Homo sapiens: one gene and its partners. The protein of the gene in region 1 purifies or fractionates together with the protein of each later gene. This does not show direct contact. Each region holds a gene or a part of one and is shown on either strand. Other genes may lie near its edges.

Region 1 (7,028 bases):
TTAAGTAGGTGTATGCTGGAGCTACCTACCAGAGCAATGTTGTGTTCTGAGCATAATCTGCTCAGCTAAGGAAAGCATGCGTGACTTCCTTGAGAGCATAGGTGTAAATCCAGCTAGAGATGCTCTCAAAATGCTTCAGAGTCTTAAGACAGAAGGAGGACCCAGGGATTAGATTCAGGCCTTCAGACAGCAACAAAGGAGGACAGCAAACCAAGGGGATGTTCTCTGTGCTTTATGGCAGTGGTTCTCGAGCTAGAGTGGGCATCAGACCCACCTGCAGGGATGATTAACAGGGCCCCACACCTAGAGTTTCAGATTCAGTAGGTCTCAGCTAAGACTGAGAATTTGCATTTCTCACAATTTTTTAGCTAGTGCCAATGCACAGAGCCAATGTTCTATAGCTTCTTTCTTTCTGTTTAACCCTTACTACCAGAAGACTAGGATGGGGATTTAGAACACCATGGCTTTCCCACAGTGAATAAGGCCCAGGCCAGATTGCAGTTACTCACTGTGGCTGCTAACCTCATTCATGGGAGTAAAGTAGGATTTTAATTACCTACCTGTTCCTGAGGCTGCATCTCATTTCAATTTAGATAATCTAGTCAGTGGCTTCCCAAAGCCAGTTAAAGCATCAGTGATACTCTGATTGCATAAGCAAACCCAAGGAATTGTTGAAATTACAAATTCCTTTTTCCCGCCCTAGGACATTTTGAATCAGTAGGTCTGGGATGAGGCCTGGGGACCTGTGTTTTTAACAATCTCCTCTGATCATTTAATCCACTTCCGATTTATCTGTCCACAGGCCTTGAGTCTTCCTTTCCATGGTCACACACAATATGTTTCACTAATGCACATTTATTTTGAGTATGTTTACCCAAAACTTAGACTATGCCCTTGGTCAAGGGATTAGCAACCTTTCAAAAGAAGCATGCCCAGTATTTCTTTATATAGCCTTTCATCATCAGAGGTGGCAATGCTGATGGAATGGCCTTTGGTTTAGCTCTGCAAAAAAGCCCTGTGGGTACTCAGCTCTTCAAAGAAGCTCTGTTCCTGGCATGTTTAGAAGTTACTGTGTGCACATACGTAACCCACTCAGCTGTTCCAGAGGAACAAGACCTTCACCCTTTAGGTATATAGTGTGTGCAGTTGCCCCACCGTGGGGGTTGGCAAAAAGTGGGGAGGGCCCTTGCATAAGCTCATTGATAAGTTCAGTCATTTACTCACCCAACCAACAATCACTGGTTATGTGTTCTGAGTCAGGCATGGAGGTATCTTCTCATAATCAAAAGATAAGCAAGAAACAGTTAACTGCCCGCAAGGATTCCACAATTTTGAATCCTAACTTCAGATGCTATCTCCTTACCTCATTTGGCACGTGCATTTGTGCTGGTATACATACCTTTTTCAGCACATAAACTCATTTGGCACATGTGCCAAGGATTGCCAACTATCTTATACACACAACCACACACACACACACACACATACACAGCCTTAAAACAAAAAAAAAAAAACACCAATATCCATGTTGAGTTACTAACTCTAGCATCAGCTGCAAAATTTTATTTTAGGTTGCAGTTCACGCAGTTGTCTTTCAAAAATTTTCGTTATGCTGTTGTTAGTTCTCTGTGCTGGATTTGGTCCACAGTCCATTGGAGGAAAAAACAATTGTATTTATTGTTGTGTTTGGGAGAGGAAAATTCCTCTTTTTATAGAGGTATAAACATATATTAGTTTAAAATTTTGTGTCTAGTATGTAGTCATTAATACAAAACTAGACACATTATTGTTTATAATTATTTGTTACACTGGATCTAAATTCAAATATTTTACATTTATATACAACGGGTTGCTTTATATTAAAATTTATGTGATGCTCCTGTCTTCTCCAGTTTAAGTCAGTCATCAAAGGATGCTCAATCTAGCTATATTTTTTCTTGCACTAAATATAGTGAATCATAAAGTTCGAAGGTGTTACCAGCCCTCTTTGCTTTTAAGAAAGAAAAGATGCACTGTGGAAATGCTGTCTCTCATTTTTAAGGTCATTGATTGGGTTAAAAAGGCAAATGACTTTTTTCATTGAACTTCCTTCAATTAAGCCATTAACCTTTTAAAATAAGTGCATTCAAAAATCTATCAAAAAAAGCTAAATGAGATTTTAACAAAATCCTGACAATTTCAGCTTAAACATATACACAGAAACCATATGTGCTTAGAAAGAAATATATACACACAGGCATTGTTTACAGAGTGTGTTTTTATATTTGGAAGACACTGAAGGAAGAGTTATTCCATACATACATTATCTGAAATGTACATTCAGATAGCCTACATAGATTTCATATTACACACAAAGATATCTTTATCCATGGTAGGTAGACAGACAGACTGACTGACTTCAAACTTGCACTTGCAGTGTGGATTTTTTTTCCTCATCTCCGGGTACTGCTTTTCAAAATTGCCTCAGGCTACAGAACAGCACCTCAGATCCCCAAGGCCCACTGCCTGGCTCCTAATAGCCACTCTCCATCTGTGTCACATGAACAGCTGATGAGATCGCTCCAGTGTCTGTATTTTGGAGAGCACATCCACCCAGGTTAAAATGCTAGGGTTGCCAAGGAGCAGTCAGAAGCCATTAGTGTGGGTGAGAATTTGCCTTGCAGCAGTTCCTTGGCATGGTGGAAAGCGTGTGCACGTGTCCCTGCACGAGCTTGGGTGTGCGTGTATGTGTGTGTGTCTCCTTGTCCAGGCGACACTCCGGTGTACATGGGTGTGCAGGGAGGGTGACAGATGAAAACTAGACTGTATATTATCCAGTATTGAAAGAGTCAAATGCCTTTTGTTTCACTGTATACTGATTCGGTCTTTGACTATATGGGGTCCCTTTTTTCTTATCATAACAGAAGGCAAAGAAAAAGAGAACAGCAACTTCGGGGTCATGCTCTAGTGTTTGGGCAGATGGAAGGGAGCTGCTTTGCCTTGGGGCAGGGTGGTTGTAATGAAGTGGCCTGTCAGTCTGTAAATAGTGAGGGTCATCTCTTCCATGTGATGGAGGGTATCGCATTGCAGTGAAAATGGAAATGTCAATAAAATTAATCTGCCAGCTCTTTGCTGTGGCTTTTCTGCTTCTCTAGTCAAAGAAAGTTGAGGGTTTTTTGGCAAGAAAGGAAAAGAACAGGTACAGGGAAGCCCACAGAGCAGACCCAGAAGTTAGAAGGCAAGTGGCCCAGTGGGCAGGATGGCTGTGCTGTAGCATAGTCCGAGAGGAGGGAGCAGGTCTGGGAATGAGCTGATGGATCTCTAGTATTCCTCAGAAAGCTACAGAGCATCCAGCTCAGGCTACATTGAGCACAGAGTTTATTGTTTTAGGCTTTCTTGGACAAGGTTTTTACTTAGCATGGGATTTATGGCATTTACTGCTAATGAATGTCTATTCTTAAATTACAAAAACCCCCATCTCAGTGCAATTCCCAGATGTCCTTCCAGGACCCTGGCTTCTTAAACACCAGCAGGGAGCATAAACTCTCCACTTCTCTGTTTTCCTCTTTCGTGTGGCTCCAGGCTAATGATGTGCAAGGAAAACACAGCCATCTATAAAGCCCCAGTGCTGTCCCCGTATTCTTCATTTATTTTGCATTTGATTATGCCACAAGTCGGATCTTGTTTCTTTCCTTTTTTTAAAGTTATTAGTTCAAATATTAATGTAGGGATATGGCATATATTGCTGCTCTTGATTGATGCCTTCCCAAAAACAGGAAGACGTGCTCGTATGAATTTTAAGAAAGTAGGGGTCCTGCAATGCCTTGCCAGAAGAGTTTTTCAGATACATAATTTAGATGCCCTCCAGGCAGGCTTTCAAGGCATTTTTGCCAGAGGGCAAGAAAAAATAACTATGACTGTTAAAAGTAAATGATTTTTGCTAATGCACAATTAATGCCAGAGAAAAGCACAGAAGAGAAAGATGTTGATAGAAACTTCTGATTAAGTGAGCACCCTACCTTGATGTGTATCTTTTTTTTTTTCATGATAATGATCAGTGGTGCAGAGAGCTAAAAGTTTTCATGTCATGCAAATGCCGAGTGCAGGGTCATATGAGAAGTGTGCGAATGTGCGTGCTTAGGAGGTGACAGCTCTAGGAGGGGCTGAGCAGGCAGTGCGTTATGTGCAACGAACAGTGACACAGTTACTGTCACCTATGCAGGCAGCCTAGAATATATAGACTACAGAACATTTAACTTGATTACCCTACAGTATGTGTTCACTCTGGGCATGGGGATGCGTTTCCACTGAATAGGTTTTCTGATGGCGGTTTTCCCACATTGGATTCCATAATTGACAAAGAGCTACTGCACTGTGTCAAGTGCACAGTTATAATTGAATTAATGATATGGGCAAGTGTGAGACACACAAAATTAACATTTGAAGAGGCCTGGTTTAATTTTGTCTTTTACATATTTGTGTCTCCAATTATACTTTAATGAAAGAGAATATACTCGCTTAATGGATTTCTTTCAACAAGCTTAGCTGAGCTCATCATTAGCTGCACTTGTTGTTGGCACCTTGCGATGTTTTCTCTAATGTATTTTTATTTCTTTCTACTAGGGGATGGTTTAGACAACAGTGTAGCTTCACCTGGTACAGGTGACGATGATGATCCGGATAAGGACAAAAAACGCCAGAAGAAAAGAGGCATTTTCCCCAAAGTAGCAACAAATATCATGAGAGCATGGCTCTTCCAGCATCTCACAGTAAGTCAAGATGAAAGAGAAAAAAAAAATAGTTTTTGTTGTTTTGCTAGCAAGTTATACGGTCTCATACTGATTTTTTTTTAAACTAAGGTGCCTATTTTCTTATTCTTGAAATCTGATGACTAACAGACTAGTTAAAGTTTTTTTTTTCATCAACTATTACCATCCAAAGAGCACCCTCTAGAAAGTAGCAGGTTTTTGTTTTAAGAAGCTGGGAATGGACTTTATTTAAAATGATCTAAGACCCTAAACAGCATATATAAGTAAATTTGTTATTTATGCTAAAAGTATGAGAGCAACTTCGGATACTGCAACAGCAACCAAGGGAAATGGCTGTAAGGAGCTCACAAATCCATAAACGTTGCTGATTACACTGTTAACGAAAGCTGTCTCCTCTAGGAGGCCAAAAAAAAAAAAAAAAAAGCACCTTGCCACATGCATGTCCAAGCTCACAATATCAGGTGCAGCTTTAATTGCTGAAGCAGTTTACAAATATGTCATGTATTTATATGACAAATTCAGAAGGGTTATAGGTGCTGTAATGCCTTTGTTTGCAAGGTGGACATTAAAGATTCTTTTTTTAGCTGCTCAAGTCCATTATCTTAAAAGCTAACCATGTTCACTTCTGGAAACGGTTTTACTATGTGAGACATTTTAAAAGTAACAATTTATCTTTATCTTCCTGTTTGCAATCCTTGTATGTGTGGATACATACTGTTGACTCTAAGACTCTTATGACAAAAAAATTACAATATATTTTTACAGATAAACTAGGCATGCTTATATTTTACTGTTCATTTGGAAATTCTGGGAAACCAGTAAAAATTTCAGAGGTTGCTTCTTGCTATAATATTGTTTTCAGGCCATTCTATTTAGGCTAATACTTAAAAATAGAGTAGCACATTGAAAGCTGAAGGTCTTCTTTGATTATCCAACTTGTGTGTTGCCATGCTGAATGACATTAGTTACAGTGTCATGGGTCCAGGACAAGGTTCCACTTTTATTTATGGTGGTGGCTGCTGATGGGCTCTTCTTGCAGAGCTACAAAGGGCAAGGGGTGGAGCAGTGGTGGGGAGGGAAAAGTGATAGATTCACATTCCTAAATCGGCCATTTTGATGTAAGGACATTAGTAGCAAACTAAGGTGTATCGATCTGGCCTGTGGTGTCAGGATTAGCTGGGAGAACCAATGAGGCAGCTGTGGTAGTGGTTATTCTTGCCTTGCAGCTATGGCCATTTCAAAGGTCAGGGCCCTGCACTGACTCGGCTCAGAGGAATTAGACAGAACATGCGGTCTCTGGACTGATTACTTAACCAAAGACAAAATAATGAGTCCTAAGCAAATACTGACTAATTGAAAGGGCTGTAAATCCATTACATATTGGTCAGGGATAATCAGGAGTATTTAATCACTTTTATCTATTCAGGAGCACTGAAGCTGCAACAGCAAAGCCCTGAACCTTGCCATGTGGTTATTATTCTCATCATTATCAAAATTACTTCACAGCTGTTCTTTGCTACATCACCTCAGCTGGAGATTTACTAACCTGTAAAATGTTTTTAATTTGGAAGTCGAGTGACTGTGAGGGGAGGGGTTTCTCATTTTTAAATGAAGGTTTGTTTGGTTAGAGTAGCAACTAAGAACGGCAGTGTAGCTGCGGATGACAGGCCAGCTGCCTTCTCCTGACCAGCTCACCTGTTTGGTTCCCTCCCTCTGTCCTCCTCCATGCTTGGTCTTTCTTGGTCGAAAATAAACACTTCAACAGCTGCTTTCCAAGCAAACAGCTACGTGTGTTTTCAACCTCTCTGTCATCAAAACCAATGTCAGAGAACAGTAGAACCTTAGAGAATGCAGCTGCTCTGTTTATAGATGAGGAAACAGAGACCCAAAAAGGGAAGTTACTAGCTGAAGGTCAAGCTGAGACAAGGGCCCGAGACTTCCAAGTCCCCAACTCTGTGATTTTTCCACATTACAATGACTTTGCCAAAATGACGATCACCTTTAACAGTTGCATAGAAATCTCACAGTCTCCACCATCAATACGCTCAGAGTCACAAGGGAGAAATACGGAGAAGCCAAGTGCTGTTTTCTTTTCTTGTTTTGAAAGCTCCGTGTTACCCAATATAGAAAGCCTTACCACCTGTATTTTGTGAGTTGAATCTCACATGGGAGTGTCAGGAGCCCTTAATACCTTATCTCCCACCTCCCTGCCCAGGGCGGCACCCAGCATGCACCATGGCCACCGATTAGAGTTGTGGGTGGCTGGTGATTTCTGGGCAC
Region 2 (7,028 bases), on another chromosome or scaffold:
GGGACTGCAGGTAATTGTTCTTATTTTTATTTTCTTTTTGATGCTTTTATGTTTTTCAAGATTTTCTGCAATGAGCATGTGTTATTTACTTTTAGAAAAAGCATATATTATTTTTATAATTAGAAAAAAAAGGCTAAAGTCATTGAAAAATCTATGCCTCCCAAGATCTAGCTGGCCTAGCCCTAATTCTCAGGGACAGGTGCTGAACCACTGTGAAAAACCTTCAGTTAGGGCTTCTGCAGAGGTGGGGCTTTGAGGAGACAGGGGTCTGGGGCAGGGATCTGAGTTGGGGTGTCCAGGAATTTACAATCCTCACCTTGGCCTGTGCCACTTCTTTGCTGTTGAGCACGAAGAGGACATCCTGCGTATGAAGCAGAGACAAGGGCAGATCCAGAAGGGAGATGTACTTGCGCAGCACATTCACAGACTGAAGCGTGAGCACAGAGCACCCTGGATGGAGAGGAGACAGGGTGAAGTGATAAGCCTTGAGGCCTCCAGCCAGATTTTCCCCTGAGCATCCTCCCTCTACCCTGTGGCTCAGGGCAGGGCAGGACAGTGGCCACAGCATTGCCACGTGTTTCTGTGGCACTAAAGCTGCCCTGTGCCCATGATTCTTGCAGCTAGAACGAGTAAAAGGGCCATAGAAGACCTGGCTGGCTACCCTCTACCCTGCGGTGTGCCCTACCAGAAAAAGGTTGGCTGCTAGAGGTTGAGATCTGGCTACCTCAAAGCCAAAGGAAGTAAAGGAGACAGGAATTACTGTATTGGGAGTTTAGAGACCTGGTTCCAGCTCTGTCAGTCAAGAATTGACAGACTTGGCAAAGTCCCTTAACCACTCTCAGTCTCAGTTTTCTAATCTGTAAATTGGTGTTGATAGTGTGAGACCTGCCTGTCTCACAGGATTGATATAAGAATCAAACAAACTATAGTCATGTTCCAAAGTCATCATGGCTTGGTAAGCTCCTTTCAGTCATCCCACATAGAAAGGGCACAAACTACTTACGTTTTCATTCATTGAATCTTCGTATTGCGCCGGTGAGGTATGACAGACCAGAAACTGGTCCAGAGAGGCTAAGCATGGGGGTCATGCAGTAAATGGTCAGGTAGGGTCAAATACTTTATGTGGGTTAGGAAGAGTTCCTAACTCAGGCAGATTGGTTCATCAAGCACCCAGCAGTCATTTACAACCTGCCTAATTGGTTGGGGGATGGGATTGAGTTCAGACTGGAAGAATACCAGAGGTGTAAAACATCCACCCTGTGAAAAAGCTAGACAGGTTGAGGGGCAAACCTGGCCTCCCCACTCATCCAGAGGTGGCCCTGCAGGCAGGCACTTGCTGGTAGATACAACCTGCCAGGTACCTTGAGGTGAGTCAGGAAGAGTGTGGCGGCCTCCCCAACCACTGCCTCTGCTCGGCTGAGGGCAGCTCTCTGTGGATTTGCAAATTTCCCCCTCATAAGTTTCTCAGAGGGACAGTATCTTGTGGCCCTTTGCAAAAGGAACAAGCCTTACCTTTAGGTAACTTCCCTTCTGAGTGCAGGGCCCTGGAGGAGGGATAGGACAAGAGTGAGAGGAGTAAGGATCATTTCCTTTGTAGGTAACAGGAGGGGCCTTCAGAGGAAAGGCTGCCATGCCCATGGTCCCCTCCATGTGAGTCTCCAGGTGGTTTCTTTTGCATAAATCACTGTATAGATTTCCAGGATCCCATACCTCTGGCAACAGCTGAAGGGACCAGGATGGGCACCTGAGCTAGGGACAGCCAATCCAGAGGCTGGTCTGTGGTTTGTGAAGTACTCTGGTCCAAGCTTTGCCCATTAGAGAATGAAGGTAACTGTGCTGGACTCTTCATAGTTTTTCTCTTGGAAGTGTAATGTGAGTATGATGGGGGAATATTTTACAATGCTAACTGATAGCTCTTCCCTGATATTTCCTTTCTCCTTTCTGAGCTTCCCTACGCCTACCTTCTGACAGTGCAGGTCATTCTGTGCTCGCCACCTTAAGAGGAGGGGAGTGTCAACTGCAATGAGCTCCAAGTCTCTTCCCCACTTTGTTGTTTAGAAAGCTGGGGGCAGAGAAGGATTGGGAAGGTAGCCCCAGCAACACACAGACACACATATGAACAGAGACTCTTGGGAGCAGGGGTTAAACAAGAGAAGTTGAGAGACAATTGACAAATTCATGGAACTGACTGCCTGGCAGAGCCTGAGAGGTAGAAAAACCTGAAAAAGGAGCCGGGCGCGGTGGCTCACGCCTGTAAACCCAGCACTTTGGGAGGCCGAGGCAAGCGGATCACGAGGTCAGGAGTTCGGCACCAGCCTGGCCAATATGGTGAAACTCCGTCTCTAATAAAAATACAAAAATTAACCGGGCGTGGTGGCATGCACCAGTAGTTCCCAGCTACTCAGGAGGCTGAGGCAGGAGGCGGAGGCTGCAGTGAGCTGAGATCACGCCACTGCACACCAGCCTGGGTGACAGAGCGAGACTCTGTCTCAAAAAAAAAAAAAAAAAAAAAAAAAGAAAGAAAGAAAGAAAGAAAGAAAAGAAAAGACTGAAAAAACTTTCTGGGATCCTGAGAATGAAGTGGCTTGTCCTGTACTCTGGGCAAAGCCCTGTGGATATTCTGATGTCCAGGGAAAGCAGTGAGCTAGAGGCGCTGTCTGGAAGTAGAGCTTATAGCCCTTAAAGCCACAGGAGAAGCTGTGCTGAGGAGGACTGGGGAGTGAGCCCTGGGGACAGGGGGACCAAGGGGCCACTGGTGGGAGGGAAGCCGGGAAGAGAATGAGAAGTAGCCAGAAAGGCCAGAGTGAGGAGGGCAAGCTGGTGCCATATAAGTCAAAGCAGCATTGCAGTGAGGGACAGGCAGGGCCAGATGCCACAGAAGGTTCAAGGTGGCTGAGGACTAACGTGAGTCTAACGAATTTAGCAGGCAAGAGATGACTGTGGGGAAAAAGGTTGTGGCAGATTGGTGGCATGTCCATGAATTGTTTTATCTGAAGCACAGTGGCCCTCCTTCGTGCTGAGAGCCTGTGGCACTCCAGCCTCTTCTGAGGAAAATGGCCCCAGGCAGTTCTATCTACACAGAGTTGTCCCCTTGGGTTCTTTCTCTGCCCAGAATGACGCCTTCTCTATTTTCTCCACTTCAGTGGTGACTGGACCAGGAATGGGACCAGGTGACTCAATCTCAAGTGCCCCAGCCCCCTGCCTGTTGAGGTACTCTTTGTTTGCAATAGACCTGACCTGATCCTTTCTCTGGTGCAGTGTAAATTCTCGGAGAGAAATCACCAGGCTCAGTGTGCATCCAGAATGAGGTGGGACCATTTTTCCAGTTCTCCATGGGGCTTGCTGTCCATGCTAGTCTTGGAAGCTCAAGGCCTCAGAGTAACCATGTGGTTGGAAAGACCACTCTGGGGCTGCCTCATTTTTCCATATATCATCAAAAAAATTTGTATTTCAGACTGTAACCAGGGAATGTTTCTTTCCTGAATTTGAAGGGACCTAATGCGACTAGGAGCATGTCTCTTCTAAAGCTGTGGCTGCTGGCTGGACCAGGAACCGAATAGTCTTTACAGGGAGAACAGTCTAGCCTCCCCTCATTCCATAGTCAAGGAAACAGGGAAATCTGCCTAGAAAGAGTATGTGGGTAAAATTCTAGCATCTTCCACCAAGTGATGTAAAATTTAAGGACAAGGAGGGTCTTCAGTTTGGATTGGTCTTCACATACATCTGACAGAATAATGAATGGAGAACTAGGATTCCTGAATTCTGCCTCTGCCATAGTTTAACCTTGTGGTGCTGGGCAAACCACTTCCCAGTGATTGGACTTAATGGTTGGTGAGGTCATTTCCAACTTTACATATTGCATTGCTTCAGTCTGAGTGTTAAGCATGTTTAGAAGAAGGTTATTAAATAAGTCCTTCCCTTCAAGTTGCTTCTTTCCTTCCTCAGTAGCTGGGACAGGCCTGCCACACCACTGATCAGGGGCCCAGGAGAAGCACTTTGCTAGGGGACAGGAAACACATCTATGTTTGTATGACTCTATGTCACTCAATACCTTTGAGCTTGCATTTTCTTTTTATTGGTAAAATGCAAATAAATATCAGTAAAATCGGGTGACTGTGAAGAACAAACACATTTCATATTATGTATGTATATCCTCCTTCTCCAAGAAAGATTTGAGAGTTGTATAAAACACATGACGGAAGTGAGAGTAAGGGGAAGAAGATGGTGAAGGTGGAGGCACACTGATTGACAGCACTCATTCCTTAAAGTCTTGTCCAGTGCCACAGGGCTTGCAAATTTGGCCCTCAAGCTTCCTGTGGCCACAGAAAAGAGATGAATAAAGTCAATTACCCCATTCGCAGTATTCAGTGTATAAAAAAGAATTCAGCTGTTTAGGAGACGAGCATTCGTACTAGGACTTGAGAGAGATTTCTCAGCGAGAGGACATGGTGAGATGCAGTGAGCAACATGGCCAAAAAGGGCTAGAAGATAAGCCAGCAGTGAGTTTCATGGGCTCAGATAACAAGTGGGAAAGTGCTTTAGACTTTAAACCATGAGCCCTAATCAAATAAACAAACCCTCCCCCACATCCATCACCCGGAGAATCATACCTCACAGCTGCATACAGAGCAATGTGATTGCTGTGGCCACTTACTCCCCCTGCATCGAAAGTCACCACCTGTAGAGAAACACAGGGTTTTCACTGAATGCCTTCTCCACCACCTCAACTTCAATGGAGCTGTCTCCTTCCCTTGGGAAGGAGAGAACAGAACCCTGAAACTTTTCAAATGCAGCATCTATCTGAAGTGACTTCTGAGCAGATCAGTGGTGTGTAGCTAGTGCTGTGGTTGACCACATAGAGACTGTTTTCCAGGGTTTGATGTTTTACTCTTGTTCCTAGCCAGTGGAGCAGAGTGGAATTCAGCCATGATAGTAACTTGGGTTCAGAATATCTTTGTTGCTTATTGGTTTAGCCATTTATTAGCACATTTAGAATTCCTGGCTAGCTTCTAAGTGAACTCTGTTTATGCAGATACAGCCTGAATTACTGGTTCTCTTTTTCTCATGCCATACTGAGGGCAAAAAAAGCTTTGAAGGACAATGTCCACCGTGTCCTGGGGTTGAGTTCATGGAAAAAGTGTATTTATTCATAGATTGCCTCTGTTTCCATTTTCACAGCTATATCAATATCTGTTTATTAACTACAAGCTCAGTCTGTATTCCAACATTTCATTTCTACACAAATGAATTAAAGAAAAAACAAATAGCTCCCTCTCCCTCTCCCTCTCCCCCCCCCTTCCCCCTCCCCTCTTTCCAAGGTCTCCTTCTGATGCTGAGCCGAAGCTGGACTGTACTGCTGCCATCTCGGCTTACTGCAACCTCCCTGCCTGATTCTCCTACCTCAGCCTGCCGAGTGCCTGCGATTGCAGGCGCGCGCCGCCACGCCTGACTGGTTTTCGTATTTTTTTGGTGGAGACGGGGTTTCGCTGTGTTGGCCGGGCTGGTCTCCAGCTCCTAACCGCAAGTGATCTGCCAGCCTTGGCCTCCCAAGGTGCCGGGATTGCAGACGGAGTCTCGTTCACTCAGTGCTCAATGTTGCCCAGGCTGGAGTGCAGTGGCGTGATCTCGGCTAGCTACAACCTCCACCTCCCAGCCGCCTGCCTTGGCCTCCCAAAGTGCCGAGATTGCAGCCTCTGCCCGGCCGCCACCCCGTCTGGGAAGTGAGGAGCGTCTCTGCCTGGCCACCCATCGTCTGGGATGTGAGGAGCCCCTCTGCCCGGCCGCCCAGTCTGGGAAGTGAGGAGCGCCTCTTCCCGGCCGCCATCCCGTCTAGGAAGTGAGGAGCGCCTCCACCCGGCTGCCCATCGTCTGAGATGTGGGGAGCGCCTCTGCCCTGCCGCCCCATCTGGGATGTGAGGAGCGCCTCTGCCCGGCCGCGACCCCCGTCTGGGAGGTGAGGAGCGTCTCTGCCCGGCCTCCCCGTCTGAGAAGTGAGGAGCCCCTCCGCCCGGCAGCCGCCCCATCTGGGAAGTGAGGAGCGTCTCCGCCCAGCAGCCGCCCCGTCCGGGAGGGAGGTGGGGGGCTGCGGGCAGCCCCCGCCCGGCCAGCCGCCCCCTCCGGGAGGGAGGTGGGGGGGCAGCCCCCACCCGGCCAGCCACCCCGTCCGGGAGGTTGGGGGCGCCTCTGCCCGGCCACCCCGTCTGGGAAGTGAGGAGCCCCTCTGCCCGGCCACCACCCCGTCTGGGAGGTGTACCCAACAGCTCATTGAGAACGGGCCATGATGACGATGGCGGTTTTGTGGAATAGAAAAGGGGGAAAGGTGGGGAAAAGATAGAGAAATCAGATTGTTGCTGTGTCTGTGTAGAAGGAGGTAGACCTGGGAGACTTCATTTTGTTCTGTACTAAGAAAAATTCTTCTGCCTTGCGATGCTGTTGATCTCTGACCTTACCCCCAACCCTGTGCTCTCTGAAACATGTGCTGTGTCCACTCAGGGTTAAATGGATTAAGGGCGGTGCAAGATGTGCTTTGTTAAACAGATGCTTGAAGGCAGCATGCTCGTTAAGAGTCATCACCACTCCCTAATCTCAAGTACCCAGGGACACAAACACTGCGGAAGGCCGCAGGGTCCTCTGCCTAGGAAAACCAGAGACCTTTGTTCACTTGTTTATCTGCTGACCTTCCCTCCACTATTGTCCTATGACCCTGCCAAATCCCCCTCTTCGAGAAACACCCAAGAATGATCAAAAAAAAAAAAAAGAAAGAAAACCTCTGTGCTTTGGGCTTTACCACTTATTGGGTTTGTGGCTTTTTGCAAGTTATATAACATGTCTGTGGTGCAATTATCTCATATGTAATCATAATTGTACTTCACACAATTGTCATAGAGATTTTCTGAGATAAATGATAATAATAATTGCTAAAAAAAAGAAAAAACAAATAATAATTTGAATAATAATAATAATAAGGCTAACTCAAATAATAAAAGAAATATAAAAACGACAACAAGGACTGAAGAAAGGATAGAATG
Region 3 (7,028 bases), on another chromosome or scaffold:
CATAATAAATATAAAATCAATTTCCTGCTCTAGTTCCTATTCCAAGTTGAAAATGATATATCTGACTATGAATTCCAACAACCTTCACCTGTAGTTTTTTTTTTAAAAAAAAACAATGGTGGGAGGAGAAAAGAAAGAAAAATGAAACTTGTAAGACCACCTAAGTCAATTCTTCCTCATTTAAGGACACTTGGATAGTAAAGGTAAGATGCACATTTAAGCTTGCCATTTCAAATATATATATTTTTTAATGCAATGATTTCCTCCCCATCAAATGCCATTCAAGAATTTCATAAGTCCTTCCCAATAATTCCTCTATAAATTATTTGCAGGGCTTAGTACATCTGAAAGCCTGTAGAAACCTTTGTTTAAATAATAACATGCAATTTCAAAAGCTTTTTGTTCCCTTTTCAATCAAAAATAACTTCATATGTTTTAAATGAAATTTTGCAAGTAATCAGAGACTAATGAGGATTCACTGATTTAACTAGTTCAGGGAATCAGAGAAGGGAGTGAGAATTTAAAGTAACCAAGTGTTTCATTTAGAAAAGCAGCTAATGTGGTAGGTACACTAAAAGTCGTCTTCACAGCGAAATGTAATCAGGACTTTTGTCTCAGGAGAAACTCATCCTCCTTTCTGTGCACATTCGTAACTCACATTACCATTAACAGGCATCACACATGCACACCGAAGAGATGCCTGCCTTGGTAGTATGCATGCATGGCAGCTGTGGTGACTAAATAATCCACATGGCTCTGAAGAGAAGATATGGTTTACTGGGTCCAGAGTCACAGCTACAGTGGTGGAATTCAGACACTTGAACTAAACCCCAGTAGGAATGCCTTACCCAAACCCTCTTCCTTCTAACCATACCCAGCAAATACAGTTAGGCCAGGATTTTGCAATTCCATCCTCTATGCATGGTTTATAGATAGAAGTTCCATGTTTGAGTAAACCTTAACCTTCTTGTAGGCACAGAAGGTCTGTCTTCCTCCCTTTCCCCACAGCAATCCTAGTATTCATTCATGTATTTCTCCCCAGAATATAAGAAATATCACAAAATAGCTTTATAGAGAAAAATTCAGAGGCCTAGCTTAGGCCACAAAAGTCAACAAAATCTGAATCCAGTATGAAATTCCATCTTCCACACAAAATGTCATCAGTAATCTTACCTATAAGATATATGCTGAAATATAAATTCCACAGGTTGTATAAAGGGCAGTTTAACCATGAATTATAATTGTTACAGCTTTTATGGATTCAAGTCAGAATGTTAATACTCATTTAATATAGTTTTCTGAAGCCCAATTCAACTTCTTCCTTCCTTCCCTAGTGAAGAAAATATCCTTGTGAAGTTCAATTTAGTGACATTGGTGCACAAGCCCATACACAGAAGTTTACACTTCTGAGAAGAGATAAGTGATAAACAGTTCATTAGCCATGTTAATGAAATTATGTTTTAGGAAAAAAAAGACTAGGTGACACAAAAATTTTAGTATATTTTTATACAGAAACATTACAATAAAAACTTTATATTCAGTATCTCCAATTAGGTCAATTAATATTCAGAAAAATCCTGTAACATTTCATTTAAATAATCATAGGAGGGGGAAAAAAGAATCCACCAATGTTCTGGAAGCTTCTCTAGACCTTTCAATCAATTTTATTTATATGCAAAACCAAGAGAAACTCAAAAAAAAAAAAAAAAAAAAAACAAAGCTCCTCCTGATGCTAAAGCTCTCAATTTACTGACAGGCAAATGGCTTCATGCTGCCACTTAATCTCATTTCTTGCATAATGCCCTCTAATTAGCATATCAAAGTGAATTAATACTTCTAGGGCATTAGCAATGGGGAAATCTGCTCCAGGCTCACAATAGCAGTTAAGAGAGAGCCAAGAAATCCTCAAAAACACCACAAACCACTTTGCATTGCAAAACTGTTCAATTTATTTATCCTCTCTCTCTAAACACTTTTACCGCACACTGTTTTACTACTGTTCACCAAACAAAATGATAATTGCCAAAGTTACCAGCATCTGTAATGCCTGTTTAGAATCTTAATTTAGACTGTTGCAGATAATTTCTATATGCAACCATTTGTTCTATTATAAATGTTAATATAGAGACAGTGAAAATGTTGACATTCTCAATTAGTTAATTTGAATTTGAAATAAAATTTTATGGGATTTTAAAATTTATGAATTTTTTAATGTAAAAAGCCACCTGCTGGACTCTGAAGCCTAAGAAATATGCTTTGAAAACTGATGTATCACATAAAAGAAAACAAAACAAACAAAAAATCATTTTGCCATAACATGTTGAGTCTCACAAATAATGGTTTAAACATTGTGAGGACTCATCAGCATTAAAAGGATTACATTGTATACCAAGTCCTCATTAATATGATCACTAAAAAAGAGTTATTGTCTAAACAGCTTAACATTTTTAAAGCACTTAAGTTGAAAGAAGTAGAAAACTTTTAACAATTATTTTTATCCATAAATATTTTTAATTGCTTTCATACTAACCTGTTACTATTACGTAGACAGTTATACAAAAAAAGTTACGCCAATTCAGTTTGATACATTCTATCACACCAATTTTTTTGCTAGATATACACTCAAATTTAGTGCCAAAGTAAACTAGTTACCATTAAAACCTACAAACATATTATACTATGGAATATATCTATGAAAAAATAATACAGAAGAAATTCTTGTTGCAATTCTGCCTACAAAAGGGATAATTAGAATCAAGTGTTGAAGATTAATGAAATTTATTTTTTAATATGTTCTGAGTTTGAAGGCATAAAAAGGTGGTTTATTTTTTCAGTAGCTCATTCAAGAATTACTTATTATTTGCTAAATATAGCACTGTCAACTAGATGTGATAGCAATTTGTCTGATTAACTTCAATAACTTTGTAAAAAATCAGATAGCTAGTTCTGAAAAACTTTTACCAATTTATACTACATAGTGATATAAATTATTTACTCTCTTCATACTTGAAGACTCAAATGGCCTACTGAAGTAGAGCAAATGCTTGAAAAGGTCAACACGGGCTTGAGGGGGAGGTGGTGGTAATGTGTAAGCTTTGTTAGTCAGTTAATACCTAAATCATGCTGATCACACTGATAAATGGCTAAAACACAAGACTGCTGAGAAAACAAAACATTATTCTCATAATGTCAATATTGAACTAATAAATATCTAAAGATGTTCACAAACACGAATAGGGAAAAGATAATCTAAAACCTTATATAACTTGATGTGTTAGTGCTGATGTGTTAAGCATTTATTCTAAATAGATACCTCAGGGTAGAGTACAAAATAAAGTGATGACTGACTTAGGGTGTGGTTCACGAAATGCAGTTTCAATTCTTATAGTCCCACTTCATATAATGTAACTTCATCCTATACCATGCCACTATAAAGTATCAAAATATAAATAATCCAACTAATACGTTAATTTAAATTTGCCTCAGAAGTAACCTTTTACAAAATTTATAAATTGAGATGGAAATATACAGGCAAAATTAATTAAAAGGAAAAGCATCATAGTATGAAAAATGTAGACAAGTACATTTTATGAAAGCCGATCAACCAGTGTGCTCTTTGGGGCAAGTCGGGGCCTCCTTTGCTAGTGTATTAAAAGACTTCTAATTCAGAATAAAATTATGTAAATTAATAAAATAACATAGTAAAGTCCCAAATAAAATACCAAAACTATTCAAATCTGTAATAAAATGAGGGTCATTAAAACTAAGGAACAAAAGAATTACTTGCACAGATCAAGTTAGTATTGACAAGAGAGTTCAATACATTTTTATTGGGAAGAAAAAAATAAAGAACAGGATTGGAAAATGTCTCTATATTTTAAAGATAATATCCACATGATACTTTAGATCATGAGGTTCTAAACCAGCTTGGCAATGAGATTTTTCTCCAGGTTTTCTACAAATGTATTATATGTGCTATTTTGTTAGGATGGAAATGGAAGAATAAAGAAGTAGAAAAATCCCTTTCTTTTACAACTTCTCTGAAAACCTCCTACAAAAGCTCCAGTAAGATACCAAATCTATAAAAATAGAAAAAAAAAAAGGTAAAATATTAAGTTAAGAAAAATATATTGATAAAGCAATATAATTTATAACATTTCCAAGATACTCTGACTTTGTATTTTTCCTGTTTAATCACTTAATATTTCCAATATAAGCAGACCTAATGCTTAAAATTGATATGAAACTTAAAACATTAAAGAACCATTAAAATTTGCTTCAAAATAATTTTGGAATGGTGGGAATTACAGAGAAAACACGACTGGCCAAGTATTGCTAATTGCTGAAGATGGGCACTGAGTTCATGGGAGGTTCAAGAGTCTCTGCTCTCTGCATGTTATGTTTCAAAGGTGTCCACAATAAAAAGTTGTTAAAATCTTGAAAATAAGTTCATTAAAACAAAATGTGTTTCATGAAAACACAAAAAGGAATCATGTATGGAACAGTGCATTTGTTTTTAAAACTTGAAACAAAAGATGATAATTATATTGGAAATAGTGCAAGAGCAACTTAAAAGCATATGCAAAATATATAATAACATTTAGACTAATATATAACAATTTTCACCTTTCTTGCTAAATTTTCACTTGAAAAAATTGATTTTTACATATGTAGAATTAAAAGAATCACACAGCACTGTACAAAGAAAAATGTAACAGATTTTTATATTGAAACCTTAAAAAGAGAAGCACACCAAAAAAAGACTCCAAAGAGTCTCTAAACCTGTGGGTTCACAATTAAATAGAGAGGTGTCGAATGACAGTACTGCCTTGTCTCTTTGAAAGCTAGTCACACTTCTAGCAATAAAGATAAAAGGTTTAATCTCACATCATATACTAAATGCACATAAAACCTCACTTGTAAACTATACTCTTGATCTAGTTTTAATATCTAAAATTCTTATGACTCTTTCTAGGGAGGGTTCCTTTAAAAGTAAGGCATTTTTACTAGTCATTTTCTTCTCCTTAAACATAAAAAATACTTCAACCAGCCCAACCAACCAAGCAGGCCTTTCTCTTCCCCTGCGGACACCTCCTGCAGTAGAGAAGTTCATTAAGTTTTATGATCTTCCCAAGTCAGTCCTACTTATAAGCCTCACAAAGGCTACAAATCTGGCAAACCATCATGTATGCCATTAGACATTACTAGTAAATGAACGCTATTTAGGGTTTGTGGTGGCAATAAATCAGAGTTTGGTTGGCAGCCATCAACATGGAGTATTTTAACCTATTATTTGAAAAGGAAAAGGTTGTGTTTATTTTTTTTCATGCATAACATTTTTCACAATAATGTGATTCATATTATCTACTAAAATGTGGGATTTCATTTAAAAAATAAATATTTTTTTCTTGAAAAAGAACTATTTCCTTCACTTAAACTCGCACAATTAAGGGCTTTGGAAAGAAGACAAGATTTTTCAGGATGAAATATTTCACAAAGGAAAGCACTTCAACAATTAAGATTAAGATGACCAAAAAGAGGTGGGGGCATACACCAAAAGAGGTATGCAGGTGAGCAGACCTTGTGGCATCAGGGATATTTAATAAGAGACAGATGATAAAATATGGCTTTAAAAATCAGGAGAAAAATCTTAACATATCAACAATAATCTCACTGGTTACTTGGTTTAAAATAAACAACTATTTTTATTTTAAAGCCTACAACTTTTTGGGTGCTCTCAAAATGCACAAATATCACAATTCAACAATGAGAGACATTTCTGCCCAAAAATAATGGTATGATCAATTTTACGAAAGAATATATTCTCAAGAAAAAGCAGCATCTTATAGTAGAAGTATACTTTCCTTACCTCTCAACAAGAAAATAATATAATTGTAGTAGATTACCCATTTATCTGTCAGAAGGGAAAAATACCTTTTCATATATGGTAGAGGGGGAAACAGATGTTTTCTAAACTAAATCCCCCATGTGCATAAGAACTGGCAGTGTTCACTGCCTGATCAGAAACCTCAAAATCCACTGGCAGAGCTACAAATAAACAGATTTTTTTTAAAATGATTTTGTTTTGTTTTAGAAGAAAAGCACAACTGAAATGACATTATCCACTGAAATGACAGTTCACCCTCAACCCCCTTCATTAAGCAGAATAGAGTCATCAACATAATGTTTCTGGTTTCTATTCATAAATGACTAGGTAAACTTTCTCTAAATTACAAAGAATTAATTTTTAGGTATTATTAGATTAAATAAAATGATTTTTAAAAAATATTTATGCAATATACATATATTCTACAATGTTTCTTTTATAAGTTCATGTTTCTAAAGCATGACCGACTATGGAAGCAGGAGTGGGGGGGCTTGGAATTTGCAGCCCCGCTTTCTTTGCTTTGGTAACACTAATGTCTACACAGCTGTTTTATTTCGAATTGAGGATTCTGAGTCCCTGTCTCATTCTAAGACTAGTTTTGGAGAGTGAGGTGAAGCTATGGGTAGTAGGGGAGAATGGAAAGAAGAGAAAGAGCTTCACCCCCATCAATCACTCAGTACTTAAATCCCATCCCTCTCGAGCTTAGAGAGGCTAGCAGGAAGATGCCTCTACCCAGACAGCCGCCTTTACTCTTTGTCGGCTGTTGGCTTTTTACAAAAGAGATAACGTGCAAATGTGGATCCACTGGCCAAAGCACAAAAAGAGAATCTAATTTACAAGTTATCACTGAAAGCCCCAGAAACAATTTTAAAACACAAAAATTTCTTTTGTCAGCTGCCTCTTGGTTTTTAAATAGCAATAGCCCTACCAAAGCTCTCTCTGCCAGTAATCCCAGACTTTGAAAAGATTTGTTTCTTTTTCGTAACTCACCTTTGACATGTGGTTGACTATACTTTCCTTTCAGAATGGTGTAACTAAGTCCTGTGCAAATAAGCAACTAAAGGACTTATGCTTCCTAATTGAATTCTGCCTGCTGCTAAATGTCTCAACATGAAAAGCAGTTTGCTGGGTTTAGTTCTCA

What was found. Proteins that work in one complex are often made in the same cells at the same time.
Region 2: the proteins of MEIS2 (region 1) and PIGL purify together in Homo sapiens (affinity purification with mass spectrometry; 3 studies listed by BioGRID and IntAct, with this or other methods). This does not show direct contact.
Region 3: the proteins of MEIS2 (region 1) and PBX3 purify together in Homo sapiens (affinity purification with mass spectrometry; 4 studies listed by BioGRID and IntAct, with this or other methods). This does not show direct contact.

Annotation. Positions count from the first base shown.
Region 1 is NC_000015.10:37,034,534-37,041,561, reverse strand, and holds part of MEIS2 (homeobox protein Meis2), read left to right. Parts: intron 1-4,602; coding exon 4,603-4,748; intron 4,749-7,028. UniProt on the Homo sapiens protein: Involved in transcriptional regulation. Binds to HOX or PBX proteins to form dimers, or to a DNA-bound dimer of PBX and HOX proteins and thought to have a role in stabilization of the homeoprotein-DNA complex.
Region 2 is NC_000017.11:16,311,197-16,318,224, reverse strand, and holds part of PIGL (N-acetylglucosaminyl-phosphatidylinositol de-N-acetylase), read right to left. Parts: intron 4,679-7,028; coding exon 4,611-4,678; intron 4,314-4,610; coding exon of another isoform or gene 4,256-4,313; exon of another isoform or gene 4,053-4,255; intron 1,545-4,052; coding exon 1,513-1,544; intron 1,431-1,512; coding exon of another isoform or gene 1,141-1,430; exon of another isoform or gene 451-1,140; coding exon 317-450; intron 1-316.
Region 3 is NC_000009.12:125,750,360-125,757,387, reverse strand, and holds part of PBX3 (pre-B-cell leukemia transcription factor 3), read right to left. Parts: intron 1-7,028. UniProt on the Homo sapiens protein: Transcriptional activator that binds the sequence 5'-ATCAATCAA-3'.